Linked DNA regions of Homo sapiens. The protein of the gene in region 1 purifies or fractionates together with the protein of each later gene. This does not show direct contact. Each region holds a gene or a part of one and is shown in the gene's direction. Other genes may lie near its edges. The genes, in order: CHAF1B, EIF4G1, H4C6 and CBX1.

Region 1 (9,286 bases):
CTGTCTCTACTAGAAATACAGAAATTTGCTGGGCATAGTGGCGCATGCCTGTAGTCCCAGCTACTCCGGTGGCTGAGGCACGAGGATCACTGGAACCTGGGAGGTGGAGTTTGCGGTGAGCCGAGATTGCGCCATTGCACTCCAGCCTGGGCAACAAGAGCGAAACTCTGGCTCAAAAAAAAATATGTGTATATATATGTTTTTGTATATATTATATATAATATATACTTTAATATGTTATATATTTATATTATATATAATATATTTTTATATTATACATAATATATATTTTTATATTATACATAATATATATTTTTATATTATACATAATATATATTTTTATATTATACATAATATATATTTTTATATTATACATAATATATATTTTTATATTATACATAATATATATTTTTATATTATACATAATATATATTTTTATATTATACATAATATATATTTTTATATTATACATAATATATATTTTTATATTATACATAATATATATTTTATATTATACATAATATATATTTTTATATTATATATAATATATATTTTTATATTATATATTTTATATATATAAAAATATATCTATTACATATATATATATATGAATAGTAATGCCGGCTTCCTTGTGTTCTTAAGAATTAAATGCTTGTTTGTTTGTTGAGACAGTGTCTGGCTCTGTCACCCAGGCTGGAGTGCAGTGGCACGATCTTGGCTCACTGCAACCTTTGCTTCCTGGGTTCAAGCGGTTCTCCTGCCTCAGCCTCCCGAGAAGCTGGGATTACAGGCGTGTGCCACCACACTTAGATAATTTTTGTATTTTTAGTAGAGATGGGGTTTTGCTATGTTGGCCAGGCTGGTCTCGTACTCCTGGACTCAAGTGATCCGCCCGCCTTGGCCTCCCAAAGTGCTGGGATTACAGGTGTGAGCCACCATGTCTGGCAAATGCTTGATGTTTATAAATAGTAGTAAAAACTGTCCCAGACAGGTGTTAAAGAAATGTTGTTTTAAAAGATTAATGATTACCAGTTTAATAATCCACTATTTTCTTTTTTTAAAGGGTGCATTTGTTAATAGCTGGATGTGGTGGCATGTGCCTGTAGTCCCAGGAGGCTGAGACGGGAGGATTGCTTTGAGCCCAGAAGTTCTAGGTTACAGCGACCTATGATTGCGCCACTGCACTCTAGCCTGGGTGACAGAGCGAGACTCTGTATCTAAAGAGTGCATTCAGTTGGAAATTCTAATGAATCCACACAGATAGAAAGCAGAGGTCTCCTGGTCATCTTCCCACTGTCTGCCAGTCTCAGGCCCCAGACATGCCACTATTGACCCTGTGGTTTGTGTTCTTAAGAGTTTTTAAAAATAATTTTAGAACCACATAAAACACACATATATACATATAGCTTTACCTAACAAAAATGTGTGGTCAGTTTTCATGAATGTTTACCCTTGCAGTGTTGTACAATTATTTGATTTGTAATGTGTTTCAGTTTCATTTATGATTATGTCAACAATAAATGACACTATGTAAAGAAAACCATAGGCACATATAGCAGTTGGGAAGCGTTTATTTGTGAGTGTAAAGATTTGGAAAAATGTTTAAGCTTTGTGTGTAGAAAACAAACAAAAAAAATAATAAAAATAAATTTTGTGTGCGACAGGCAAGAAGCTACCGGATGTTTCACGACGACAGCATGAAGTCTTTCTTCCGTAGACTGAGTTTCACTCCCGACGGATCTTTGCTTCTCACGCCAGGTGTGTTTCGTAGCTTTGGACTTAAAGGAATGATGGCCGAGTGGGGATGTCTGCTCCCGTTTTACGCTGCAGCTTATCAGCTCAGTGAATGCTGATTAGAGTGGGGGTCCCCGACTTACCTGCCCATTGGAACCTCCAGGAGAGCTTCAAAAAACACATTGGTGCCTATGTCCCATCCCTAGAGATTGTAGTGTATGTAATTGGTCTGGGTGGCCTGGCTTTTGGAATTTTAAGAAGATTTCCAAGTGATTGTAATGTGCAGAAAAGTTTGGGAGTAATGAGTTTAAAATGATAGGCATTTTCTCTTAGATAAATTTAACTTTTGGCTGGGCACAGTGGATCACACCTGTAATCCCAGCACTTTGGGAGGCTGAGGCGGGCGGATCACTTGAGGTCAAGAGTTCATGACCAGCCTGGCCAACATGGTGAAACACCCTCTCTATTAAAAATACAAAAATTAATGATGTGGTGGCGCATACCCTGTAATCCCAGCCACTTGGGAGACTGCGGCAGGAGAATCGCTTGAACCCAGGAGGCAGAGGGTGCAGTGAGCCGAGATCACACCACTGTACTCCAGCCTGGGCGACAGAGTGATATCTTATCTAAAAAAAAAAAAAAAAAAAAAAAAAGAAACTTTACTATTTAAACCCTTTCAATGAATGCTTTTTCATTCATTAACATGTGTATGGAAGCCATAGCGCTAAAGCCAAAGATAAAGCTCCTTTATTGTTTTTATTCTCCTCAATAAAGCGCATTTGTGACAGGATTAGACTCATGGACAAACTTGTGGAAGCAGCAGTGGTCAAAATCAAAAGGTCAGCCAAGTAGCAAGGACTAGATAGGTTTATTGTCCCTATGTCCCTAGGAAGGCAAGGGGCTCAGCCCAGCAAGATAAGGCTAGGCATTATTGTGGCCACAGTGTTCTCAGAGGAGAATGTCTGCTCATTGCCGTGGCTCCAGGACCATCCTGTGCATAGAGATGACAACATAGCCCAGGGTTGGGCCAAACGGGAGGGCACTGTCTTGGTTTGCCACTGAGTCCCATCCCAGCTGAGCCAGGGAGGGCCTGAGAAGGGCGTGAATCACACATGCAGCTGTGTGGGTGGGGCTTTAAAGAACACTGCGGAACATGTGCGAATGACACTTTGGCCCAAGAAGTCTCAGGACTAAGAATAAGTAGTTGTTTAGGTTATATTTACTAAAGTTAGTTATTAAAAGTTATTCACTAAACCCAGTAATAAATCCTTTTTTTTTTTTTTTTTTTTGAGACTGAGTTTTGCCCTGTTGCCCAGCTGGAGTGCAGTGGCACGATCTTGGCTCACCACTGCAGCCTCCGCCTCCCAGTTTCAAGCGATTCTCCTGCCTCAGCCTCCTGAGTAGCTGGGATTACAGGTGTGCGCCACCACTCCCAGCTAATTTTTGTATTTTTAGTAGAGACGGGGTTTCACCATGTTGGTCAGGCTGGTCTCAAACTCCTGACCTTGTGATCCGCCTGCCTTGGCCTCCGAAAGTGCTGGGATTACAGGCTTGAGCCACCACGCCCGGCCCTTTTTTTTTTTTTAAATTATTTATTTTATTTATTTATTAATTTATTTATTTTGAGATGGAGTTTCGCTCTTGTTACCCAGGCTGGAGTGCAATGGCACGATCTCGGCTCACAGCAACCTCCGCCTCCCGGGTTCAAGCCATTCTCCTGCCTCAGCCTCCGGAGTAGCTGGGATTACAGGCATGCGCCACCACGCCCAGCTAATTTTGTATTTTTAGTAGAGACGGGGTTTCTCCATGTTGGTCAGTCTGGTCTCGAACTCCGGACCTCAGGTGATCTGCCCACCTTGGCCTCCCAAAGTGCTGGGATTATAGGTGTGAGCCATTGCGCTGGCCTTTTTTTTTTTTTTTTTTTTTTTTTTTAAAAAGCAGAGTCTCGCTCTGTCACCCAGGCTGGAGTGCAGTGGCACCATCTTGGCTCACTGTAGCCTCCACCTCCTGGGTTCAAGCGATTCTCCTGCCTCAGCCTCCTGAGTAGCTGAGATTACAGGCGCCTGCCACCACAACCAGATAATTTTTGTATTTTTAGTAGAGATGGGGTTTCGCCATGTTGGCCAGGCTGGTCCCAAACTCCTGACCTCAGGTGATCTGCCCACCTTGGCCTCCCAAAGTGTTGGGATTACAGGTTACAGGTGTGAGCCACTGCGCCCAGCCCCAGTAGCAAATCCTTTACTATTTGGCCACTCTAAAAATATTTTCAATTAAAATCAAGTAGCAAATGGATGTCTGTTATCAACGTTATTGTTCTTTGTGGTGTTAGTAAGTGTGGGAAAAACAGGAAAATGAAATTACAAAGATTGGAAAAGAACAGATAAAAAACTGCAATAGGATTGTATTTCTAGAAAATCCAAGAGATTTTAAAAATAGTATTAGAATTTTTAAAATAATTTGATAAGATGGCTGGATATTATAAAATATATAAAAATTCCTATCTTTCGTCTATATTGGCAGTGAGTACTTAGAAATGGAAGGAGGAGAAATATTTCATTCAGAGTAGTGCAAAACCTGCAAAATACATAGAGTAAATTTATTTATTTATTTATTTTTTGAGACAGGGTCTCACTCTGTCACCCAGGCTGGAGTACAGTGGTGTGATCATGGCCCACTGCATCAGCCTTGATCTCCTGAGTTCAGGGAATCCTCCCACCTCAGCCTCCCTACTAGCTGGGACCACAGGCGTGTAGCACCATGCCTGGCTAATTTTCTTATTTTTTTGTAGAGACATGGTCTTGCTATGTTGCCCAGGCTGGTCTTAAACTCCTGGGCTCAAGCACCCCTTCCGCCTCGGCCTCCCAAAGAGCTGGGATTACAGGTGTGAGCCACCACACCCAGGCAGAAGTAAATTTAATGAGAAAGGGGCAGGACCTTTATGGAGAAGTCTAGAAGGTCTTACTGAAGGTTATAAAGCAAGTTCTGAACAAATGGAAAGATATGTCGTGTTCTAACAATTAACATACTAATTTCATTTCCAATTAGAATTGCATTAAAGTTTTTTTTTAATTGGATGAAATCTCAGCTTTGTTTAGTAGAATAAATGCTGAAGAATAGCCAAAGAAGTATTAAAAAAAAAACAGTGATACTTGGGAGGGCATTTGCCTCACCACATATCAGAAGATCCTATAACACTACTTTTAGCCAATCAATATGGTGTTGCTATAGGACCAAACAAATAGATTAGTGGACCAGAACACAGAATCCAGAAAAAGATCTCAGGATATAAGGCGATTTAATATATGACCTCAGGTGCTGTTCCAGTGGAAAAAAATCTATTATTTATTTGTAATTAATTGTATGTTACTTAAATAATTCTCAAGAGAATTAGACACTGAAGGCAGATAGGACAAGAGTATGTCATTAAGAAGGTTGGGAAGTGTTGAGATTGGACAAAGACCTATTCCTCTTTTTTTTGAGAGGGTTTCACCCTTGTCGCCCAGGCTTGAGAGCATTGGCGTGATCTTGGCTCACTGCAACCTCCATCTCCTGAGTTCAAGTGATTCTTCTGCCTCAGCCTCCCAAGTAGCTGGGATTACAGGCGCCGGCCACCATGCCCAGCTAATTTTTGTATTTTTAGTAGAGATGAGGTTTTACCATGTTGGCCAGGGTGGTCTCAAACTTCTGATCTCAGGTGATCCACCCGCCTCAGCCTCCCAAAGTGCTGGGATTACAGGCGTGAGCCACTGCACCTGGCCTCCTTTTTTTTTTAATTGACAGATGAAATTGTATGTAGTTGTGTATGACATGATGTTTTGAAGTATATATATGTTGTGGAATGACTAAATCTAGCTAATTAGCATAGCATGGTCTCACATAATTAGGATTTCTGTGGTTTGAACGCTTTATATCTCTTAGCATTTTTCAGGAATATAATACATTGTTATGAACCATAATCACCATGTTGTACAAGAGATGGATCTTGCAAAGGGAGGACTCTATTATTGAATGAGTAGTGCTGGGGTAGCCAGCTATGTGGAAGAAGGTAAAATTGGACCCCTTGCCTAGATGTAAAAAATAAATTCCAGGTGAATTCAGTACTTAAACACAAAAGGTAAAAATAGAAAACTCTTGTAAGGAAATATAGGAGGACATTCTAGGAATGGAGAAGACCCAATTAAGACTGGAAACTGGCTGGGCATGGTGGCTCAAGCCTGTAATCCCAGCACTCTGGGAGGCCAAGGTGGGTGGATCACCTGAGGTCTGGAGTTCAAGACCAGCCTGGCCAACATGGCAAAACCCTGTCTCTACTAAAAATACAAAAATTAGCCGGGCATGGTGATGCACACCTGTAATCCCAGCTACTCAAGAGCCTGAGGCAGGAGAATCGCTCCAACCCAGGAGGCAGAGGTTGCAGTGAGCCAAGATCGCACCACTGCACTCTAGCCTGGGCAACAGAGTGAGACTCTGTCTAAAAAAAAAAAAAAAAAGTATATGTTCAAGGATGCTTATTGCAAGCATTGTTTATAGTGGTAAAAAACCAAAAGCCAAAAAAATACTCATTAACAGAGGCTGGGTGAATGAATCTTGCAGTAAATATTATGCAGCTACAAAAAAATAATGCATCAGTGCTATGCAAGTTAACTTTCATGAGTAGTTGATTGAAACAAGCAAAATAAGGAGAAGTGTCAGTTTTGTAAAACAAATGGACTCAATAAAAAATATCATAGAGGTATACATGTGATTGAGTTATAACTGATTGTAATGATTATGTGAGCATGGAGGAAATATACAGATGACATAATGGTTTGTTGAATGTTAAAATGGATTTCTTGGGGATGGAAGAATGGAGTGGGATGAAAAGAGGGGCCTGGGTGCAGTGACTCACGCCTGTAATCCCAGCACTTTGGGAGGCGGAGGAGGGCAGATCACTTGAGGTCAGGAGTTCGAGACCACCCTGGCCAACATGGTGAAACCCCCTCTCTACTAAAAATACAAAAATTAGCCGGGCATCGTGGCAGGTGCCTGTAATCCCGGCTACTCAGGAGGCTGAGGCAGGGGAATTGCTTGAATCTGGGAGGTGGAGGTTGCAGTGAGCCAAGATCACGCCATCGCACTCCAGCCTGGGTGACAGAGCAAGACTCCATCTCAAAGAAAAAAAAAAGAGGGCAGCTATGTAGAATGTATTAATAATAATAATAAAAAAGACTATTGATACTGTCTACTGCCCTCCCTGGTGGATATGAAACAGTCATATGTAAAGTTACGTGTGTGTATATGTATCAAGAAATAGCATAAAACAGGGAGATGTTTCCAAGAGCAGCAGTGTATGATGGTCACTCTGACAGGGCTGAACTGTTTTAAGTACAGCAGGGGGTGAGTGTAGAAGAGCTCTCAGATGGGGACTGTTCCCCAGAGTGAAGTCAGGTTCTGAAGGAGGCTGGAGGTTTCAGCAGAGGGCAAGGTCTCCTGGCAGCCTCATGGCTGGATAGGGAAGTTGGGGAAAGGCGAGTCTCAGCCTTTGGATGGCATCCAAGGCTGGAATCCAGGAAATAGAGATGAGGGTCCTAGGGAGAAAGGAGCCTGGGCAGCTGAATCTAGTCACGGTGCTTCAATCGAGGAATTGCCTGGAGGCTCAACGGTGCCCTATGGCAAAGGCTCACTATGTTCTCCTCGCCCAAGATCAGAACCAGGTCCCCGGGGATTGCCCACAGGTAGGTGGAGATGACAGGTAGGTAGAACTGGAGTAAGGGCTGAGAACAGACAGTGCCGGAATATATGTTTTTGTGCTCTGTCACAACATTGTCCAGAGAATATAACTGCAGGGGGAAGTATTTTGCAAACCGGACCTGAAGGCTCTTGAGTTTCTGTTGGTGAACAGTTTGCTGAAACAGTGACTTTTCTTTCCTCTCCCTCCCTTCCCTGTTCCCCAGCTGGATGTGTGGAATCTGGTGAAAATGTAATGAATACCACTTATGTTTTCTCCAGGAAGAATCTTAAAAGGTATGCAGTCAAGGAAATGTTTGAAATGTTTACATTTTTTTTAGACGGAGTTTCGCTCTTGTTGCCCAGGCTGGAGTGCAATGGTGCGATCTCTGCTCACTGCAACCTCTGCCTCCCGGGTTCAAGTGATTCTCCTGCCTCAGCCTCTTGAGTAGGTGGGATTACAGGTGCCCGCCACCACTCCTAGTTAATTTTTGTATTTTTAGTAGAGATGGGGTTGCACCATGTTGGCCAGGTTGGTTTCAAACTGCTGACCTCAAGTGGTCCGCTTGCCTCGGCCTCCCAAAGTGCTGGGAATACAGGCATGAGTCATTGCACCCGGCTTGTATTTTTTTTTTTTTTTTTTTTTTAGTAGAGATGGGGTTTCGTCATGTTGGCCAGGCTGGTCTTGAACTCCTGACCTCAGGTGATCCGCCTGCCTCCTCCTCCCAAAGTGCTGGGTTTATAGGTGTGAGCCACCGCGCCCTGCCAAAATGTTTACCTTTTATTTTTGCTTTTGCTTAGTCACAGTGCCTTTTCCTAACACTGCAATTAATCCATTAGGCCCATCGCTCATCTTCCATGTCCTGGAAAAGCCACTCTTGCTGTTCGCTGCTGTCCGGTCTACTTTGAACTGAGGCCAGTGGTGGAAACAGGTATCCTCAGAGCCTCAGGGGTGTGTTATGTTTTCTCTCCGAAACAGGTCACCAGAGTGGGGTGGAGATTTGGATTCTGTCTTATGGGGAAAGGTGGGTATCTGGGTTTGGTTCAGTTCAGTTATTTTAAAAATATTTTATTTTTACATTTAAATCTATTTATTTATTTATTTTGAGACCAGGTTATCAGCCTGGTTAATTTTTGTATTTTTGGTAGCGACAGCGTTTCACCATGTTGCCAAGGCTGGTCTTGAACTCCTGGACTCAAGTGATCCACCTGCCTCGGCCTCCCAAAATGCTGGGATTACAGGTGTGAGCCCCTGTGCCCGGCCTGGTTTAGTTATTTTTAAAAGCTGGAGCAAAGACTGGGGTTATCAAAATACATGTCAGTTTTTTTTTTTTTTTCTTTCTTCAGGATATATTTTCTTGCTTAAGGCACTTTAAAAGGAATGGACGTACTCCTTTTGTTTGTCTATGTCTCTCATTATCAATTTTCTTTTTCTTTTTTTTTTTTTTGAGATGGGGTCTTGCTCTGTCGCCCAGGCTGGAGTGCAGTGGTGCAATCTTGGCTCACTGCAAACCCTGCCTCCCAGGTTCAAGGGATTCTCCCTCCTATCCTCCAGAGTAGCTGGGATTACAGGCGCATGCCACCACACCCAGCTAATTTTTGTATTTTTAGTAGAGATGGGATTTTGCCATGTTGGCCAGGCTGGTCTCGAACTCCTGACCTCAGGTGATCCACCCACCTTGGCCTCCCAAAGTACTGGGATTATAGGCGTGAGCCATCATGCCCAGCCATTTTCTTTGTTTTCTTGTGCTTGGGGTTCATTGAACTTCGTAGATCTATCCGTTTATAGTTTTTATTACATTTGGGAAGTTTCAGCCATTTTTCCTTCAAATGTTATTTCTGTTAT
Region 2 (5,157 bases), on another chromosome or scaffold:
GGTAGGTTTCTCCTGGATATCGATAAAGGAAAGGTAGTTCTTAGGGTGGGGGTGGGGGCAGCAAGAATGAAGACTGAAGGGCCCAATTCAGAATCTGGGGATCATTTGTTTCTCCCATACAGGCCAACCTGAGTGAGCAGCAGATAGTATCCAACACGTTAGTTCGAGCCCTCATGACGGCTGTCTGCTATTCTGCAATTATTTGTAAGAGGAACCAGGGAGATGGAGGGGCAAGGGTGGGCCTGACAGACAAGTGGAGGGAGGTGGGTGTCAGCCTTGGCCTCCCAGTTCTGAACCGGGGTAAGGGTATATTGCTCCACTCATCCCTGTCTTCTTGTAGTTGAGACTCCCCTCCGAGTGGACGTTGCAGTGCTGAAAGCGCGAGCGAAGCTGCTGCAGAAATACCTGTGTGACGAGCAGAAGGAGCTACAGGCGCTCTACGCCCTCCAGGCCCTTGTAGTGACCTTAGAACAGCCTCCCAGTAAGAGCCAGGCCATGGGGACAGGGGTGGGGTGGAGGGACTGCCAGATAGCAGGGCATGAGACCCTTCATGGAAGGGTCTTAATCCAAGAAAGGTAGGTAGTCATTAGAGAGCAAAATGCCCTCTGGGTTTCATTCTTTCCTTTTACGTTTGTGTTGTGTTGTTCCTACAAGTGGAAGGAGTTAGACACAGCCTTGAAGGGTAATTGCCTGTTTTGTGCCTAGCCATGTGTTTGATGCCAACAGTGCAGAGGTGATAAATGATAGGATCTTCCCAGTACCGTGTGCCCCCACGGCGTGGCACAGGGCTGAAATGCTTTGCTTACCTTGCCTCATGTAGTCCTCACAAATGTTGTTTAGGGTGGATGGTATTACCCCTATTTTCCACATGAGGAGACTGAGGTCTCAGTGAACATGTCTCAGGTTATGCATTCAGAACATAGGTATGTGTCAGGGCATTGGCATGCTCACAGAGAGGAAGCCGAGCAATTTCCTGTGCTGGCCTGGAGTTAGTACTGGCGTGAGCAATGAGCCTGGGAAGACGGGTGCTCTCGGAGGGAGGACACCTGGTCTGAGGGGTAATGAGTGGTAATTCACTCCACAACAACTGGGAAGGGGAGGGGGAGAATGTTTGAAGCGAAGGCACTATGTGTGTTCTTTCTACCTATGGTAGGAAGAACTTGACACAGGGAAAAGAACTATTAAAGAAAGGCCAGTGTGGGAGAGCACAGCAACCAGTCCTAAGTGAGGCAAGATGGGGCCGAAGAGAGGGATGTGGGCCTGACCACACAGGGCCGGGTGTAAGCCATGGCCAGAGTCTGGGGCTTTAGCCTGGGGGCAAGAAAACGCCTTTGTGGGATTTTAAGCAAGGAATAAAGGAATTTGATTTTAGTTTTTAGATCATCTTGGCAATAGAGGGAAGAGTGGTTTGGAATGGGGTGAGAGTGGATGTGGCAGTGTTAGCACCAGTGGCTCAGCCTTGCTGGTGATGGTGGAGAGGAGTAGGCAGATCAAGAGATACTTAGGAAATGGAGTTGGCAGCTTTTGGTTACACTGGTCTGGGGAGGGGGCCGTGAGAGATTAGAAGTCATGGATGACTCCCAGGATGGTTTTTAAATCACAGTGGGCTTAGAGGCCATAGTGTGATGTCATTTGCTGGGGTAGGCAACGGTGGATCAAGTTGAGTTGTGGTCCTTGAGTAAGGGAATCGAGATGTCAGCTCAATAGCTGGGGTATCTGGGTCCTTTTGGAAAAGAAGAGATCAGGGCAGGAGGCAGCTTTGTGAAATGCCGGCACAGGGTAACTCATGTGCAAGTCATAAGAGGATACGGGCTTGCCTGAGGGAGAGTGATAAGGGCCTGAGATACAGCCCCAAGGAGGTAGAGCGGACATACTGGTAGGGACCAAAGGAGGACAGGCCCCTCTGAACCAAGGACAGAGAAATTTGAGGAGAGGGATGTGGTTGATAATGCCAGATGCTGCTGTGAGCGTTTGTAGGAGTGGGCCTGAAAATGCAGGATGTTTGGAATATAAAAACATAGAGGCCACCCTGGCAAAAACAGTATTTAGTGGGGCAGGGGACAGATTCTGGATTGGAAAGGACTGAGAAATACTTAAGTGAGACAGAAAGAAGGGAAAACATCAAGTGTAGACAAAATATTTTATTAGCTGTAAGATAGTGGTTGAAAACAGGGCTTTTTGTTTTTAGGTTAGAGAAACTTGGGCTTGAAAATACAGGGCAGAGTGCATAATCGATTGGATGGGGTCCCTGGGTGGGTATGTGTGGGATTTGGAGTGTAGGTACGGGTTAAGTGAAGGTTCTGCCCTGCTATGGCCCATTGCTATGGGGTGGGGGTAGCAGGTGACTGTGCCCCTAGGCAGTTTGTGACTTTGAGGCTGGGCATGCCCTGCAGAACATCCTGGCTGGCAGCATCTCATAGATGGCTTAGAAGTGTAAGGTTTGGTTTGGAAAGACTGGTGGTGCCTTGTGGGCACTGGGGTCGGTTGTGTTTCAGGGGTTATAGGACACGTTGCTTGGGAAGGCTACCCAGCAGCTAGGGGTTGAGGAGAAAGAGGGCCCGAACAGGTGATGCTTGAGTTGAGTCCTGAAGGAACAAGACACGAGGAAGTTTCCGGCAAAGGATATAGCATCCACAAAAGTGTCAAGGCCAGAGAAGGTGTGTATGTACAGGAAATGTGTGGGGAAGGAAGGGAAATTGAGATCAGGAGTTGTCAGGATCTGTTTGGGGGGCAGTGAATGTTCAGGTTACATGTAGGATATATATAGGACTTTATGTATGATATATATAGGACTTTTAGCGATTTCCTGAATTCAGGAGTACCAATTCTGAATATAGTTTTCTCCATTAAATACATCATGGGCAGAGAGGTTTCAGGCTGCCAAGGTGAGGCCAAGCAAGTTTGTAAGGTTTTTCTGATGGCCAAGTGACTCATTGCTGTGCAGCAGTCTCAGATCATGAGATTAGCATCCTGTCAGAGGCCTAGTCACTCTGGAATGGCCACAAATGTCAGGCTGGTGCATCAGGGCCTTGTTTGAACAGTGGAACTTGGGAGGGTTCCCTGGGGTGGGCTGGGGTGGCGGTGGCCAGTCACCTCTAACTGCTGTCCCGCCTGCTTGCAGACCTGCTGCGGATGTTCTTTGACGCACTGTATGACGAGGACGTGGTGAAGGAGGATGCCTTCTACAGTTGGGAGAGTAGCAAGGACCCCGCTGAGCAGCAGGGCAAGGGTGTGGCCCTTAAATCTGTCACAGCCTTCTTCAAGTGGCTCCGTGAAGCAGAGGAGGAGTCTGACCACAACTGAGGGCTGGTGGGGCCGGGGACCTGGAGCCCCATGGACACACAGATGGCCCGGCTAGCCGCCTGGACTGCAGGGGGGCGGCAGCAGCGGCGGTGGCAGTGGGTGCCTGTAGTGTGATGTGTCTGAACTAATAAAGTGGCTGAAGAGGCAGGATGGCTTGGGGCTGCCTGGGCCCCCCTCCAGGATGCCGCCAGGTGTCCCTCTCCTCCCCCTGGGGCACAGAGATATATTATATATAAAGTCTTGAAATTTGGTGTGTCTTGGGGTGGGGAGGGGCACCAACGCCTGCCCCTGGGGTCCTTTTTTTTATTTTCTGAAAATCACTCTCGGGACTGCCGTCCTCGCTGCTGGGGGCATATGCCCCAGCCCCTGTACCACCCCTGCTGTTGCCTGGGCAGGGGGAAGGGGGGGCACGGTGCCTGTAATTATTAAACATGAATTCAATTAAGCTCACTGCCTTTCTGCTTTATGCCCTGCTCCCTCTAGAGAAGGTGTTTATAGGTGGGGATCCTTCCCAGAGCTGGTACTGTAGCGCTGTTCCCTGTAACCTGGCACCCCTCCTGCCTCTTCCCCTGTCCATGATTGCAGGGATCTGAGGTTTCCTGGAAGGTTGGGCCCTCAGATGGGCTTGATAGGTGCCTTCCTGGTCCGGAGAAAAGGGAGATTAGTGATAGGACATCCTTGCTAGGCTCTGCTCTCCTACCAGAATGATTCAAGCCCCTGTGTGGGGAAGGCTTTTGGGTTTCGGGTTGTTTATAGCTGGAGAATCCCTTTATGGCTTGAAGGTGTCATCTGTAAAATGAAGGGGCTGGATGCATGAAGGGAGGTTTTGCGACCCCGTGTAGTGTGACTGGGCTGGCTTAGTGAGTGTTCGCCGCCCCTGCCTTCAGGTGGCAGTCGGCTCTGGGAGGAGAGGACCGGCATTTTCGAACCCGGTCCAGGCCGCCTCTGCGTGGCTGTGACGTCGCTGCGCCCCGCCTACTTTGGGTGGTGACGCGGCGGTCACGCCCCCGCGCTTACGTCACCGGCCCGGTTCCCTCTCCGGGGAGCGGCGGCGGACGCGCGGCTCCCACCCCTCCCCTCTCACGGGCTCTCCCCTCCCCAGTGTGGCCGCGACCCTACCCTCTGCAAGGCGATGGCCCGCGCCCCGAGCGCAGGCTAGCGTGCCTGGGTGCCCGGCCATGGGCTGTATCGGCTCTCGGAGCCCGGCGGGTCAGGGTAAGAGGCGGAGGCCGGGTACGGGTTGGGGAGTCGGGCTGCGGCCGCCGGTGCGCGGGCCGCGGGTGGGTGGGGGCCTTGAGGAGGGGGCCGGTGTCGGGAGAGGGAGGAGCCTGCACCGGGAGGCGGGCCAGGCAACAGGAGGGAGCGGGAATGAGCAGGGAAGGGGCCAGACCGACTCCGGTTCGCTCCCACGGCCTGCCTGCCTTGGGGTTTTGCAGGGCAGACGCATGGTCTCGCCGCTGGCTGCCGTGTGCCCACTGCTCAGGGTGGCCGGAGACGCACAGCCCCGGGAGGGGCTGGGCAGCCCGATGCCCCCACCACTCCAGCCCTCGGCGACTGGCCTTGCGCGCCCACACACACACTCCCCTCCGCCTACACCTCTGCCTTCACAGTCCTGGGAGTGGCCCTGTGCTGGGAACCTGCTTCTCCCAGCCGTGTCCCCATCTTCTTAAAGAGGTAGCCTTTCGGTCCTGGCTAAGCACCCTACCACAGAATTTTTGTCGGACATTGACTCCCCTCTTCAGTCAGTCGGCGAAGGGGGACTGAGGTCCCGTTTGGGGCACCTGTGAACACTGAATCACCTCTCACCTATTACAGTTGTTTTAATGTCCTGCCCCCACTCAGCAAAAACAAATC
Region 3 (7,506 bases), on another chromosome or scaffold:
CGTATCTACCGCGCTGCTGTGTTTGTTGCCCCTTAAAAAAGAGTAAAAATATAAGAAATCTGGGCATGAAATAATTAGAGACTTGGGGGAAACTGATCCGAGAGAGTTCGGGCTTCATTCCTGCCTTTGTTTCTATGCATAGTTTTAAAACCGGCATCTTGAAACTTTTCTTATTCCCCCAACTCTCTTTCAAACTTCGGTCAAATCGAGACAACTTTCATGTTTTCCTTAAAAATACTATTTCTCCCTCTTTCATTTGCAAATCTCTCTTCCAGGGCATTGTTCTGTGAATTCTTACCGTCTCAACTTTATATAGATAAACTCATTTTTATCCAAATGTGCAGGGAAATTGGGTTTTTTCGCAGGAACAATAGCACAGGCTCTCTGGCGAGCTGTTTGCATCAACCTCTAGGAATTGGCACTGAGGTAGAAAGTTCTATGTACAAGAGGGGTGATTAGTTTAGAAAAGATAGTTTAAAAAAAAAAATAGTATTTGAGTTACCAGTGTGTAAGCTGGATTTGATCTCCATATTTCAGTGGTTTAAACATTTCCAGAAAGATAAGGGTGAGGCTACATTATTCCTCTTACAGAAAAAAAAGTCCTAAGTAGAGTTACCAACCTTCTCTTAAAAGTTAGGATCATGGATTTTTCCGATCTAGAATGGGCATTAAAGATCAACTACCACATCCCCAAAAAAGAAAACTGAACCAACAAATAATAGAATGGCAGGCCAACATCATTTTGGCAACTGTGAGCATTGAGAGCTTGTGTACATGTTTGTGTCCCATCACTTTATAAATAATTTAATGAAATACACTATTTTTTTGCTAATATTCATCATAGAATTTTGTACATTTTTTATATTTTAAAATCATATTTATAATACAAATTTCCCTTCCTCTTTCTCTGTACAACCTGTTTGAATAACTGGTAAAAGTCACTTTAAAAAAATAAAATACAAATTTTCAACATTGCAAGTGTGGGCATCAAGGGTTAGAAAGAAAAATATCTGATTTAAATCACTGTAAATTTTCATCATTCTACTTGGCTTTTTACACACAAAATATGAACTAAGCTGTCACACCCTAAATTAATTGGTTGAATATGTCCACCTAAGGAGCTGAACAAACATTTCAAAGCAAACATGAGTAACTTCAGTATTCTTTATCTGTTAGTTTGCAATACAGCTGATGGAATTAGGTTATTATTAAATAATTAAGCACAAAATTGATATTCTCCATCAAGTAATCAGATGCTGAAATGAACTCCTATGTTGAAGAAACAAGAGAAGTAGTTTGATGTTATGTTTCTTCTAACAAAAATACTCATTTCAAAAAATCAAGTTATTCTGGCCTACACTCAATAGTGATTAGAGGATTTTTTCATATAAATCCTAGATAAAATAATCAACTTTAAAGATGTCATCTCTCCTCATTCAACTAATTTCATAAAAATTACTTAGCTTGTCTTGGCCAGGCGCAGTGGCTCACGCCTGTAATCCCAGCACTTTGTGAGGCCATGCTGGGCAGACCACCTGAGTCAGGAGTTCAAGACCAGCCTGACCAACATGGTGAAACCCTGTCTATACTAAAAATACAAAAATTAGGCGGGCATGGTGGCACACGCCTGTAATCCCAGCTACTTGGGAGGCTGAGGTAGGAGAATCGCTTGAACCCGGAAGGCGGAGGTTGCAGTGAGCCAAGATAGTGCCATTGCACTCCAGCCTGGGCAACAAGAGTGAAATTCCATCTCAAAAAAAAAAATTACTAAGCTTGTCTTAAGTAATTATTTACTCTCTTGCATGTATTAGAAACAAGTCTCTGGGACTTAAGACCGTGTTATACACCACTGAAATACAAATGTGGTTTATAAAAAAGCTAAACTTATAGAATTGGATTAGTAGGACCCCACAATTCCAGTAGGGAAGCATTTTATAGGTTTCTGGAGGCAGGGGCGGTGCATCATTATGGATATCATTTTCAACAGTGATAGTCACAAGCATACTCTAAGTATTTTTTTTTGGGACCATAGCTTTATATTGCCTAGACGTAAAGGTACAATTAAAATTCAGATTGTTTACTGTTTATTATTTTGATCATTATTGTAGTCTTAATAGTTGTTGAATAATTGTTGGAATTGTTCACCGTGTTAGATATAGTCAATTAACAGATGCCACCATTTCATTCTTGTGCAACACTGACTGGTTCCCATAGCTACTTAGGATCTCAGTAAGTAAAAAGGCATTGGGCTAACTAATCTCTGCTCTTTCTGGAGGGCAATAACTGAGACTCAGTTTCACCAACAAAGTTCGCCAGATGTTCAAAGAGGAAAGGGGCTAGGCTACATAAGTTGGGACCTGGTACTTATCTTCTCTGTAATTGTAGCAAGGACAAGGTTCCTGAAAGCTGGATCACCCCATGGACTGTAAACTTGAAGTCCTGCAAAGTTTCACCTATTACTTTGGTAGCCCTCAAAAAGAGTTCTGTGTTGCTTTGGAATCCTAAATCTGAATATAATCTAAAACAGTAGATTTCCCATTACACTGAGGTTGGAACCATTTATTTTATAGATGCAAAAAGTAGCTAGGAAAAACTAGTTAGATAAGTGATAGCTATCTAACTTAAGGCCCAGTGTTCTCTTCATTTTGTGTTAACTCCCCCATCCCCACCACCACCATAGTAAATGACTATGAGAGTTGTAGGTAGTATTCAATAGATCAATCCAGTGACACTGTGCTTAAGCATCACACAATTCAGATTTTAAAGATTTCCAAAAAAAAAAAAAGAAACTATATAGAATAAATATTAAAAGGGGTGAAAACATATATAGACTATTATAGAAAATAAAGCTTTGTGTTAGAATCAAACGTGTTCAAAAAGTCCATGAGAAATCACATCGATTGTAACCGTCTATGAGGTAGTCTTACCTGAGGACACTGGCTCCTTGAAATTCCTCTTCAAGTACAACAGTATTGTGTTAATTTTATTTCCTAAGAAGGCCACTACTATACTCAAACTTACAGTTTTCTCTTTACATGTCTCAGGCATCCACCAAACTCCCTCCTCCCTTCTAGACTGGATTAGAAGCTCTTCAGAAGAAACCCCCTTATCACAGATACAGCCCAATAAAACTTTCTGCGATGATAAAAATATTCTGTATTAACACTGTCCAATAGGTAGCCACTAACCATATGTGGCTACTGAGTACCGTAATGTGGCTAGAGTAAGTGTGCAAATTAATTTTTAATTTAAATTAATTTAAATAAAAATGAGCACATGTTGCTAGTGGCTAATATAGGACAGCAGAGCTTTAAAACAATTATTCTCAAACTTGGAAGAGCATACCTACCACCCACTTAGAGATCTCATTAAAAATGTAATATCAATTCCATTGATTTGGGGTTGGGCCCGAAATTCTGTATGTCTAACAAGCTTCAGAGTGATGCCAGTATAGCTGGGATATGGCTGCTCCGCCCTTAAATACCTGACAGTAAGTAGAAGTATGCTGGTCTGATATCTGCCCCCTAACCCTGAGTGTACTTTTCCCTTTACTAAACTTTTGAGTTCTTTAAGAGAATAAATGTGATTATCTTTGTAAACCTGGTATTTGTACACTATTCTTGGCATGTAGTGGACATTAAATTGTTGAATGAATGAATGATGCTTGTTTGGTGCCTACCTCAAAAAGGAGAGCACTTGAGATCCTTGTGTCTATTCCTACAGGTAACTGAACCTAAGCCAAAATTTAAGTAGACTCTTAACTCCACAAAATGAATAATCTTCTCACTGCTTTTAGGCACCAGCAGAGACGGGATTTTTAAGTTACCCTTGCAGTATATAGGAGGCAATGAATGTGAAGCAGTAGACTGTAAGAGTTAATGTTGAATTTTTCTACTACACATACCCTATGATCTGTGTGTAGAACACTTCTTCCGGAATCTTTTATTAGGACAGTATTTCACAGAATTTATTAGTATTATTTTTGTTAATTTACAAACCTTTATTCACCATGATTTACCATGTATGCTTTAGTGGCATGAAAGCAGTGGTAGGTAGCAAGGTAGTGAGACTCCAGAATCGAGCCAACAATACAATGCCATTTATTAGAGGATAATGTCTTCAAGCCTGGGATTCCTTATCTTTACACCTCAGATATTGCATTATACATTGAAAAACTAAGAATGAAACTTCAATTAATATTGGTTTCCCTTACTAGAGGTCTTTCTTTATTAGGAATGCCAAAAACGATGTGAATGTATATGTCTCTGCCAAACGCTAAGTCTCATGATTGGCCAAATTTAAGAAGTATTGCTACATTTTAAGAATTAATAAAAATGGCCGGGCGTGGTGGCTCACGCCAGTAATCCCAGCACTTTGTGAGGCCAAGGTGGGTGGATCACCTGAAGTCAGGAGTTCGAGACCACCCTGGCCAACATGGCGAAACCCCGTCTTTACTAAGAAAATACAAAAATTACCCAGGTGTGGCGACGCGTGCCTGAAATCACAGCTACTCGTGAGGCTGAGGCATGAGAATCGCTTGAACCCAGAAGGCGGAGGTTGCAGTGAGCCGAGATAGCGCCACTGCACTCCAGCCTGGGCAACAGAGTGAGACCCCGTATCAAAAAAAAAAAATTAGTAAAAATACATTTTCAAAGAATCTTCACATTTAAAAATTAAAGCTAGGCGCCTGTAATCCCAGAACTTTGGGAGGCCGAGGCGGGTGGATCACCTGAGGTCAGGAGTTCGAGACCAGCCTAGTCAACATGGCGAAACCCCATCTCTACTAAAAATACAAAAATTAGCCGGGCGTGGTGACGCGCGCCTGTAGTTGCAGCTACTGCAGGGGCTGAGGCAGAAGAATCGCTCGAACCCGAGAGGCGGAGGTTGCAGTGAGCCGAGATCACGCCACTGCACTCCAGTCTGGGGCAGAGCAAAACTGTTTCAAAAGAAATAATAATTTTATTCTCTTGTCTATCCATTCGGTAGACAAGTGTAGCGTTACTGCCTCCTTTTTGCAAATAATAAGGATTTTAGGAGACAGACATTATCAGTTCGAGAGCCCACAGGCACTGGACTAGAAGACACAGAAACCTACACTCAAGACCCAAACAAGGAAACAGGAAGGAGTCAAATCAACTTGCATTTCCCCTACCCTCACCGCCCCCTTTCCTTCCCAAGGCAATAGTGTAGGGGACGCCCAGTAAGTTACGGAAAAGGCGGAGACAGAGGTTTCGTTCCCGCCCCTCCAATTCAGTCTCCAAAAAGGTCCGCATAATTGATATATAAGGGGCTTCAGTGTGTAGCAAAGTTGCAAAAGTTAAGAGTTGTTGTTTGTCTTCGATCATGTCTGGTAGAGGCAAAGGTGGTAAAGGTTTAGGAAAGGGAGGCGCCAAGCGCCATCGCAAAGTGCTGCGTGACAACATACAGGGCATCACGAAGCCCGCCATCCGTCGCTTGGCCCGACGCGGCGGCGTGAAACGCATTTCGGGCCTCATTTATGAGGAGACCCGCGGTGTTCTTAAGGTGTTCCTGGAGAATGTGATACGGGACGCCGTAACCTACACGGAGCACGCCAAGCGTAAGACAGTCACTGCAATGGATGTTGTCTACGCGCTCAAGCGCCAGGGACGCACTCTGTACGGCTTTGGTGGCTGAGCCTCACCCCGGCTTTTTATTTAACAGCTCACCCATAAAAGGCCCTTTTCAGGGCCACCTCCTTCGTCACACGAAGGGCTGTAACTGATGACGACTTGGGTTTCGTTTTGTAAATTTGGGATTCTAACTGAGTTAAACCGAGCCGTTTTTAGCGATCTTCCTAAGATGGCGGATGTGCTAAGGAGAAAGGGAAGGCGAAACATTAGAAACTTGTTCAGGTATTTCGATCGCAAACATTCACAGGAAAAGATGGTGGAAATGGTTTGGGAATACCAGCAGCCTTTTATGACGTATGTGATGTGTTTTATTCCCACGTTTCTGAAATTTACTCCTATGTTAGGTGGCTGGGACTTAACTACACTAGCATTACATGTTTAGTTTTTGAGATGGAGTTGCTCTTGTCCAGGCTGTAGTGCAATGACGCAATCTCGGCTCACCGCAACCACCCCCTCCCGGGTTTAAGCGGTTCTCCTGACTCAACCTCCCGAGTAACTGGGGTTACAGGCATGCGCCACCACGCTTGGCTAATTTTTTATTTTTAGTACAGAAGGGGCTTTTCTGTGTTGGTCTGGCTGGTCTCGAACTCCCGACCTCAGGTGATCCGCCCTTCTTGGCCTCCCAAAGTGCAGGGATTGCAGGCGTGAGCCACCGTGCCCGGCCTTAGTGTTATTTATTAGGCATAGAACGTGAGTAATCTTAGGGCGGCTGTGGACAGATCAATTACTGGTAAACTTAATCCACTACTTGTGTCCGGGCGCGGTGCCTCAGGCCTGAATCACAGCACCTTGGGAGACCACGGCGGGCGGATTACTAGAGCTCAGGAGTTCGAGACTAGCCTGGGCAACCAAAATGGTGAAACTCCGTCTCAACTAAAAAAGTTAAATAGGAAAGTTAGCCCGGCGTTGTGGCGGACGCCTGCTGTCGCAGCTAATCTGCAAGGGCTGAGGCAGGAGAATCGCTTGAGCACGGGAGGCGGAGATTTCAGTGAGCTGAGATGGTGCCACTCCACTCCTGCCTGGGCGACAGAGACCATGCCTCAAAAAAAAAAAAAAAAAAGTAAAGTTTGGCCGGGCTCGGTGGCTCATGTCTGCAATCCCATCTGTAATTCCAGCAGCTTGGGAGGCCGAGGTGGGTGGATCACTTGAGCTCAACGAGTTCGAGACCAGCCTGGCTAGCACTGCAAAACCTCGTCTCTACTAAAAATACAAAAATTAGACGTAGACGTGGTGACACGCGCCTGTAGTCCCAGCTACTCGGGAGGCTGAGGCAGGAGAATCACTTGAACCCGGGAGACTGAGGTTGCAGTGAGCCGAGGTCGCGCCACTGCACTCCAGGCCTGGGGCACAGAACAAGGCTCCGTCTCAAAAAGAAAAAAAAAAGCCCAAGTTTTTGTCTTACCCAGTGAATTCTTTGTTGGGGCACTTACTGTGATTTCAGGTCATTGATAATTTTACTGCTTTATTTCTCAAGTACTGGTAATTTATAACCCAAAGTGTTTCTCCTTGTGCTTTGTCAACCTACCCGGTTATCACCCGCGATCCTGACTCCTAACGTTTTCATTTTTTCACCATACCGAAGAAGTGGCTTCTCATCTGTTCTTTTTTTGTCAATGGTAATTCATTACATACACTGTTCCACAAATATTCTTCAACTTGGGGTTTCCTCTTCAAGAAGCCTTTACCTGATTCCTATGGGCAAAATCGGTGTCTGGGGTTTCCTTACAATTCACGAAGCACACTCTACACATGTCCCTAGCCCTACTTCAGAATTCCCTATACGACTTAGGAGCTACTGCACACTTAAATAGTTGGGAGTAATTCTTGCCCTCTTCCCAAGATATTTTCAGGTCTT
Region 4 (7,000 bases), on another chromosome or scaffold:
TGTTCATTAGTGCCTGGCACATAGTAGGCCGTTCAGATTGTTGATGAATGAATGATGAATAGGGGAGCTTTGAGATCCATTCTGAGAACTCAGCCAAATTAATGTGCATAGTAGTTTGCTTGTCCTGTGTCTGTGACATTTGGCAGAGTTAAGCTGTTGCTTTGCCATGTTTGTCTTAGCCTCAGTTAGTTTCTTTTTGTTTGTTTGTTTGTTTGTTTTTTGTTTTTTTAAGACAGAGTGTCGCTCTGTTGCCAGGCTGGAGTGCAGTGGTGGCATCATGGCTCACTGAAGCCTCAACCTCCTGGACACAAGCAGTCCTCCCACCACAGCCTCTTGAGTAGCTAGGACTACAGTCTCATGCCACCATGCATGGCTTCTTTTTTGTGGGGACAGTCTCTGTTGCCCAGAATGGTTAGCTTCAGTTTTGTACTCACTCTGGTACTAAATATAGAAAAGGTATACAGGCTGTGCAACTGGCCGTTTTAAATACCTCAGGCCTCAGATTCTGGGTTTTGTCAGCAAGCAAATAGCTTGAATATATCTGTTTTAAAAGAATCTTGAAAAATCTTCTGTGTCCTTTGTATTGACCTGAGCAATAATTTACCAGTAGCAATGTCTGTTGAAAAATTGAATAGCCTTTCCAAGGTTATTTGGAGAAGTTACTCAGATATGGACAAAATTTAGATCTTGTCAATATTTGCATAGAATAACTTGTATTAAATCTTTCCTGCCTTTAGCATTTATACTTTGATGACCAGAAGGGGGCAACCTAATTTGTCTGTGAAATTGTGCCTTTTAAAATAATAGTTGACACTTTGAGTGCGTAACAGAACTATGGTATTAATTTTTTTTTTTTTTTTTTGAGACAGAGTCTCGCTCTGTCGCCAAAGCTGGAGTGCAGTGGCGCGATCTCAGCTCACTGCAACCTCCGCCTCCCAGGTTCAAGCGATCCTCCTGCTTCAGCCTCCGGAGTAGCTGGGACTACCAGGGGGCCCCGACAACGCCCGGCTAATTTTTGTATTTTTAGTAGAGATGGGGGTCTTGCCATGTTGGCCAGGCTGGTGTTGAACTCCTGACCTCGGGTGATCTACCCTCCTCGGCCACCCAAAGTGTTGGGATTACAGGTGTGAGCCACTGCGCCCAGCCTATAGTATTAATTTTTAACTGACAAGAATGGTGTATCCTTATGGGGTACAATGTGGTGGCGTTTTTTTTTCTTTTTTTGAGACGGAGTTTCGCTCTTGTTGCCCAGGCTGGAGTGCAGTGGCGCAATCTCAGCTTACTGCAACCTCCGCCTCCTCGGTTCAAGTGATTCTCCTGCCTCAGGCCTCCTAAGTAGCTGGAATTACAGGCGCCTGCCACCACGCCTGGCTAATTTTTTGTATTTTTTTAGTAGAGATGGGGTTTCATCATGTTGGCCAGGTTGGTCTTCAACTCCTGACCTCAGGTGATCCACCCTCCTTGGCCTCCAAAGTGCAGAGATTACAGGCGTGAGCCACCACGCCCAACTTGTGGTGGGGGTTTTTGAACTTTTATTTTTCTCACATAAATAGAGGCAGGGACTCACTATGTTGCCCAGGCTAGTTTCGAACTCCTGGCCTCAAGTAATCTTCCCACCTCACCCTCCCAAAGTACTGGGATTACAGACATGAGCCACTGCACCTGGCCCACTGTGGTGGTTTTTGTTTTTCTTTTCTTTTTTTAGACAAGTCTTGCTCTGTCACCCAGGCTGGAGTGCAGTGGTGCACTCCACTCAGCTCACTGCAGCTTCCACCTCCCGGGTTCAAGTGATTCTCCTGCCTCAGCCTCCTGAGGAGCTAGGAATACAGGTGCACACCACCATGCCCAGCTAACTTTTTTTGTATTTTTAGTAGAGATGAGGTCTCACCATGTTGGCCAGGCTGGTCTTGAAATCCTGACCTCAAGTGATCCACCCACCTCAGCCTCTCAAAGTGCTGGGATTGCAGGTGTGAGCCACCATGCCTGGCCACTGTGGTGTTCTGATACGTTTCCAATGTAGTCATAATTCTGGTCTAGCTTTCTAACCACTTTTATTTTATCTTAAATTCACCTTTGAAAGATAGCTTGAGGTATCTCTGTGTCCATACTAACATTTGTAGACTCTTGTGGCCTCTCAACCCAAAAATCTGTGTCAAAATATCCATGTCAACATACTCAAGGGGTTTTCCAAGTTTCAGAACACATCTCAGATAAAATTCAAAATGTATTCGCACACCAGCATTCTAGCCTTTGATCCTCTGGAATTCAAGGGCTGGTGTTCCTTTAAAAATGAAACTCCTGACTGGGCGTGATGGCTCACGCCTATAATACCAGCACTATGGGAGGCCTAGATGGGTGGATCACCTCAGGTGGGAACTGAAGACCAGCCTGACCAACATGGAGAAACTCCGTCTCTACTAAAAATACACAATTAGCTGGGCGTGGTGGTGCATGCCTGTAATCCCAGTGACTCGGGAGGCTGAGGCAGGAGAACTGCTTGAACCTGGGAGGCGGAGGTTGCAGGGAGCCGAGATTGCACCACTGTACTCTAGCCTGGGTGAAAGAGCAAGACTCCATCTCCAAAAAAAAAAGAAACTCCTGCTAACTGTGTGTGGCATAAGTTCTTGTTTTCTGCTTAGTCAAGTTTTCCATCTGGAAAGCATTTGCTTCGCAAACAGCCACAGCTTACAGACTACAAGCAGTTTAGAAACAAGACTACCACCTGAATATACTACACATGCCTTCACCTGCCTTTTGATGATTGGTATGTAGTTGCTGATTCTTTCAACAAAAGGTACTTCTTTCTTGTTTTCTCTTTAGGGCTTATGGATCAGATTTATCTTGCTGCTTATTCCCTTAAAAGCTTATAGCTTTGGAATTCTATTCCCTGATGCTTCTGAGACAGTCATCCTCTTTTTTTTGAGATGGAGTTTTGTTCTTGTTGCCCAGGCTGGAGTGCAATGGTGCAATCTCAGCTCACCGCAACCTCAGCCTCCCAGGTAGCTGGGATTACAGGCGTGTACCACCATGCCCAGCTAATTTTGCATTTTTAGTAGAGATGGGGTTTCTCCATGTTGGTCAGGCTGGTCTCGAACTCCCAACCTCAGGAGATCTGCCTGCCTCAGCCTCCCAAAGTGCTGGGATTACAGGCGTGAGCCACCGCGCCCCACCTGAGACATCCATCTTTATTGTCCATATAGGGTTCAACAACTTGTTCAGGTTCCAGACCTACCTTTAATTGTATGTGCAAGTAAAAATAGAAACAGAATGCTTTGGGAACCCCAAAGAAAAGAGAAATATTATTTAGCTAGGTTGGGTAGGCTTCATGGAGAAAGTAGCATTTTTAAGCTGGGTCTTGAAGAATGGATAGGATTTTGACTGTTGGCCCTGTACAGGAGCACACTACTTTCTTTTTTCTTTCTTTTTTTTTTTGAGGCAGAGTCTTGCTCTGTCACTGAGGCTGGAGTGCAGTGTCAAGATCTTGGCTCACTGCAACCTCTGCCTGCCTGGTTCAAGTAATTCTTGTGCCCCACCCTCCCAAGTGGCTGGGATTACAGGCATGCACCACCACACCTGGCTAATTTTTGTATTCTTAGTAGATATGGGGTGTCACCATGTTGGCCAGGCTGGTCTTGAACTCCAGGCGTCAAGTGATCCACCCGCCTCGACTTCCCAAAGTACTGATTTATAGGTGTGAGCCACCAAGCCCAGTCAGGAGCACACTTTTTTTTTTTTTTTTTCCTTTGAGACAGAGTCTTGGTCCGTCACCCAGGCTGGAGTGCAGTGGCGCGATCTCAGCTCACTGCATCCTAACCCCGTTTTCCGGATTCAAGCAATTATCGTGCCTCAGCTTCTTGAGTAGCTGGGACTACAGGTGCGCCATGCTGGCTAATTTTTTTTTTGTATTTTTAGTAGACACGGGGTTTCACCATGTTGCTGGGCTGGTCTCAAACTCCTAGCCTGAAGGATCCACCCACCTCGGCCTCCCAAAGTGCTGAGATTACAGGTGTGGGCCACAGAGCCCAGCCCACACTTTTTTTTTTTGGAGACAGAGTCTTGTCCTGTATCCCAGGCTGGAGTGCAGTGGCACAATCTTGGTTCACTGCAGCCTTCACCTCCCAAGTTCAAGGAATTCTCCTGCTTTAGCCTCCTGACTATCTGGGATTACAGGTATGTGCCACCACACCTGGATGATTTTTGTATTTTTACTAGAGTTGGGGTTTCACCATCTTAGCCAGGCTGATCTTGAACTCCTGACCTCAAGTGATCCACCTGCCTTGGCCTCCCAATGTGCTGGGATTACAAGCATGAGCCACTGCGCCCTACCAAGCCCACACTTCTTTTTTTTTTTTTTTTTTTTTTTTGAGACAGAGTTTCACTCTTGATGCCCAGGCTGGAGTGCAGTGGCACGATCTTGGCGCATCGCAACTTCCGCCTCCCAGGTTGAAGCGATTCTCCTTCCTGAGCCTCTGGAGTAGCTGGGATTACAGGCATGCGCCACCACACCCAGCTCATTTTGTATTTTTAGTAGAGATGGGGTCATGTTGGTCAGGCTGGTCTCGAACTCCTGACCTCAGGTAATTCGCCTGCCTCAGCCTCCCATAGTGCTGGGATTACAGGCGTGAGTCACCATGCCGGGCCTAAGCCCACACTTCTTAATACTTAATAGATGAGCAAAGCTATGGAGGAAACATAGGATATGTTCAGGTTGTGGCCAGGTTATAGTCTTTGACAGGAATGTAGATTTTGTGAGGGAAGAAGGGACATAATTAGTCTGGAATAAGAACCGAAGAATATAAGTGTTACACTGACGACTTTGGCCTTTTGTTTTAAATGGGAGGAAACCTTGTAGAAAATATTTCCTATTCAGTCAGCTCCAGCCCAAACTGGTTTATATGTGTCACATTGCCTTTGTTTACAACAGTTCCTGAAGCCAAATTGCCCTACCAGTACACCTTTTCAAATGCTAGTAAAGCCTGGTTTCAAACTCAGCTTTTCAAAATGTTTACTGATGCCCTCGCCAGTTCTTCCTCCAACCTCCTATAGTGCGTTTATGGCTACTTTTTATTGCTTATACTGCTTTTGGTAATTATGTATGCTTGCCATTTCGGACTCTCACTTGAACTTGCATTGTTTACCTTTTTGTAAATTTTTTTCGAGACCTGTCTTCTGTGTCTTTTTTTTTTTTTTTTAATTTTATTTTTGAGACAGAGTCTCGCTCTATTGCCCAGGCTGGAATGCAGTGTCGTGATCTGGCCTCACTGCAACCTCTGCCTCCTGGGTTCAAGCAGTTCTCCCTGCTTTAGCCTCCCAAGTAGTTGGGTAGCTGGGATTACAGGCGCCTGCCATCATGCCCAACTAATTTGTTTCTTTCTTTTCTTTTCTTTTCTTTTTTTTTTTTTTTTTTTGAGACAGAGTTTTGCTCTTGCTGCCCAGGCTGGAGTGCAATGGTGTGATCTCGGCTCACTGCAACCTCTGCCTCCTGGGTTCAAGCGATTCTCCTGCCTCAGCCTCCCGAGTAGCTGGGATTACAGGCATGCGCCACCACGTCCGGCTCATTTTGTATTTTTAGTAGAGACTGGGTTTCTCCATGTTGGTCAGGCTAGTCTTAAACTCCTGACCTCAGGTGATCTGCCGACCTCGGCCTCCCAAAGTGCTGGGATTACAGGCCTGAGCCACCATGCCCGGCCTAATTAATTAATTAATCTTTTAGAGATAGAGTCTCGCAGCTGGGTGCGGTGGCTCACGCCTGCAATCTCAGCACTTTGGGAGTCTGAGGTAAGTGGATCACGAGGTCAGGAGTTCGAGACCAGCCTAGCAAAGATGGTGAAACCTTGTCTCTACTAAAAATAGAAAAATTAGCCAGGTGCAGCGGCGGGCACCTGTAATCCCAGTTACTCAGGAGGCTGAGGCAGGAGAATCCCTTGAACCCGGGAGGTGGAGGTTGTGAGCCAAGATAGCTGCACTCTAGCCTGGGCAACAGAGCAAGACTCCCTCTCAAAAAAAAAAAGAGAGAGAGAGAGAGATGGAGTCTTGCTGTGTTGCCCAGGCTGGTCTGAAACTCATGGCCTTAACCACTCCACAACCCTTGCCTTGGCCTCCTAAACTGCTGGGATTACAGGTGTGAGCCACAGTGCCTCGCTAATTTTATTTTTTTTTTAATAGATAGTATTAAAAGGTAGAAGATCTGGTCGGGCATGGTGGCTCAGTCCTGTAATCCCAGCACTTTGGGAGGGCGAGGCGGGCAGATTACCCGAGGTCAGGAGTTCGAGACCAGCCTGACCAACATGGAGAAACCCCATCTCTACTAAAAATACAAAAGTAGCTGGGCATGGTGGCGCATGCCTGTAATCCCAGCCACTCGGGAGGTTGAGGCAGGAGAATCACTTGAACCTGGGAGGCGAAGGTTGTGGTGAGTCAAGATGGCACCATTGTATTCCAGCCTGGGTGACAAGAGTGAAACTGCATCTCAAAAAAAAAAAAAAAAAAAAAAAAGATCTGGCTGGGCATGGTGGCTCACGCCTGTAACCTGAGTACTTTGAGTGGTCGAGGTGAGTGGATCACCTGAGGTCAGGAGTTCGAGACCAGCCTGGCCAACATGGTGAAACCCCCTCTCTACTAAAAATACAAAAATTAGGCCTGGTGTGGTGGCTCACGCCTGTAATGCCAGCACTTTGGGAGGCTGAGGCTGGTGGATCACCTGAGGTCAGGAGTTTGAGACCAGCCTGGCCAACATGGTAAAACCCCGTCTCTACTAAAAATTCAAAAAATTAGCTGGGCATGGTGGCGCGTGCTTGTAATTCCAGCTATTTGGTGGGGCTGAGACAGGAGAAGCACTTGAACCCTGGAGGCAGAAGTTGCGGTGAGCCAAGATCATGCCCCCGCATTCTAGCCTGGGCAAGAGTGAGACTCTGTCTCAAAAAAAAAAAAAAAAAAAAAAAAAGGGCATGGTGGCGGGCACCTGTAATCCCAGCTACTTGGGAGGCTGAGGCAGGAGAAT

Evidence for each region.
Region 2: the proteins of CHAF1B (region 1) and EIF4G1 purify together in Homo sapiens (affinity purification with mass spectrometry; 2 studies listed by BioGRID and IntAct, with this or other methods). This does not show direct contact.
Region 3: the proteins of CHAF1B (region 1) and H4C6 purify together in Homo sapiens (affinity purification with western blotting; 2 studies listed by BioGRID, with this or other methods). This does not show direct contact.
Region 4: the proteins of CHAF1B (region 1) and CBX1 purify together in Homo sapiens (affinity purification with mass spectrometry; 4 studies listed by BioGRID and IntAct, with this or other methods). This does not show direct contact.

The regions. Positions count from the first base shown.
Region 1 is NC_000021.9:36,401,094-36,410,379, forward strand, and holds part of CHAF1B (chromatin assembly factor 1 subunit B), read left to right. Parts: intron 1-1,664; coding exon 1,665-1,758; intron 1,759-7,667; coding exon 7,668-7,737; intron 7,738-8,280; coding exon 8,281-8,372; intron 8,373-9,286. UniProt on the Homo sapiens protein: Acts as a component of the histone chaperone complex chromatin assembly factor 1 (CAF-1), which assembles histone octamers onto DNA during replication and repair.
Region 2 is NC_000003.12:184,331,606-184,336,762, forward strand, and holds the end of EIF4G1 (eukaryotic translation initiation factor 4 gamma 1), read left to right. Parts: coding exon 1-1; intron 2-122; coding exon 123-204; intron 205-340; coding exon 341-481; intron 482-3,121; coding exon 3,122-3,303; 3' UTR 3,304-3,748; downstream 3,749-5,157.
Region 3 is NC_000006.12:26,235,083-26,242,588, forward strand, and holds H4C6 (histone H4), read left to right. Parts: upstream 1-5,310; 5' UTR 5,311-5,343; coding exon 5,344-5,655; 3' UTR 5,656-5,711; downstream 5,712-7,506. UniProt on the Homo sapiens protein: Core component of nucleosome. Nucleosomes wrap and compact DNA into chromatin, limiting DNA accessibility to the cellular machineries which require DNA as a template.
Region 4 is NC_000017.11:48,091,479-48,098,478, reverse strand, and holds part of CBX1 (chromobox protein homolog 1), read left to right. Parts: intron 1-7,000. UniProt on the Homo sapiens protein: Component of heterochromatin. Recognizes and binds histone H3 tails methylated at 'Lys-9', leading to epigenetic repression. Interaction with lamin B receptor (LBR) can contribute to the association of the heterochromatin with the inner nuclear membrane.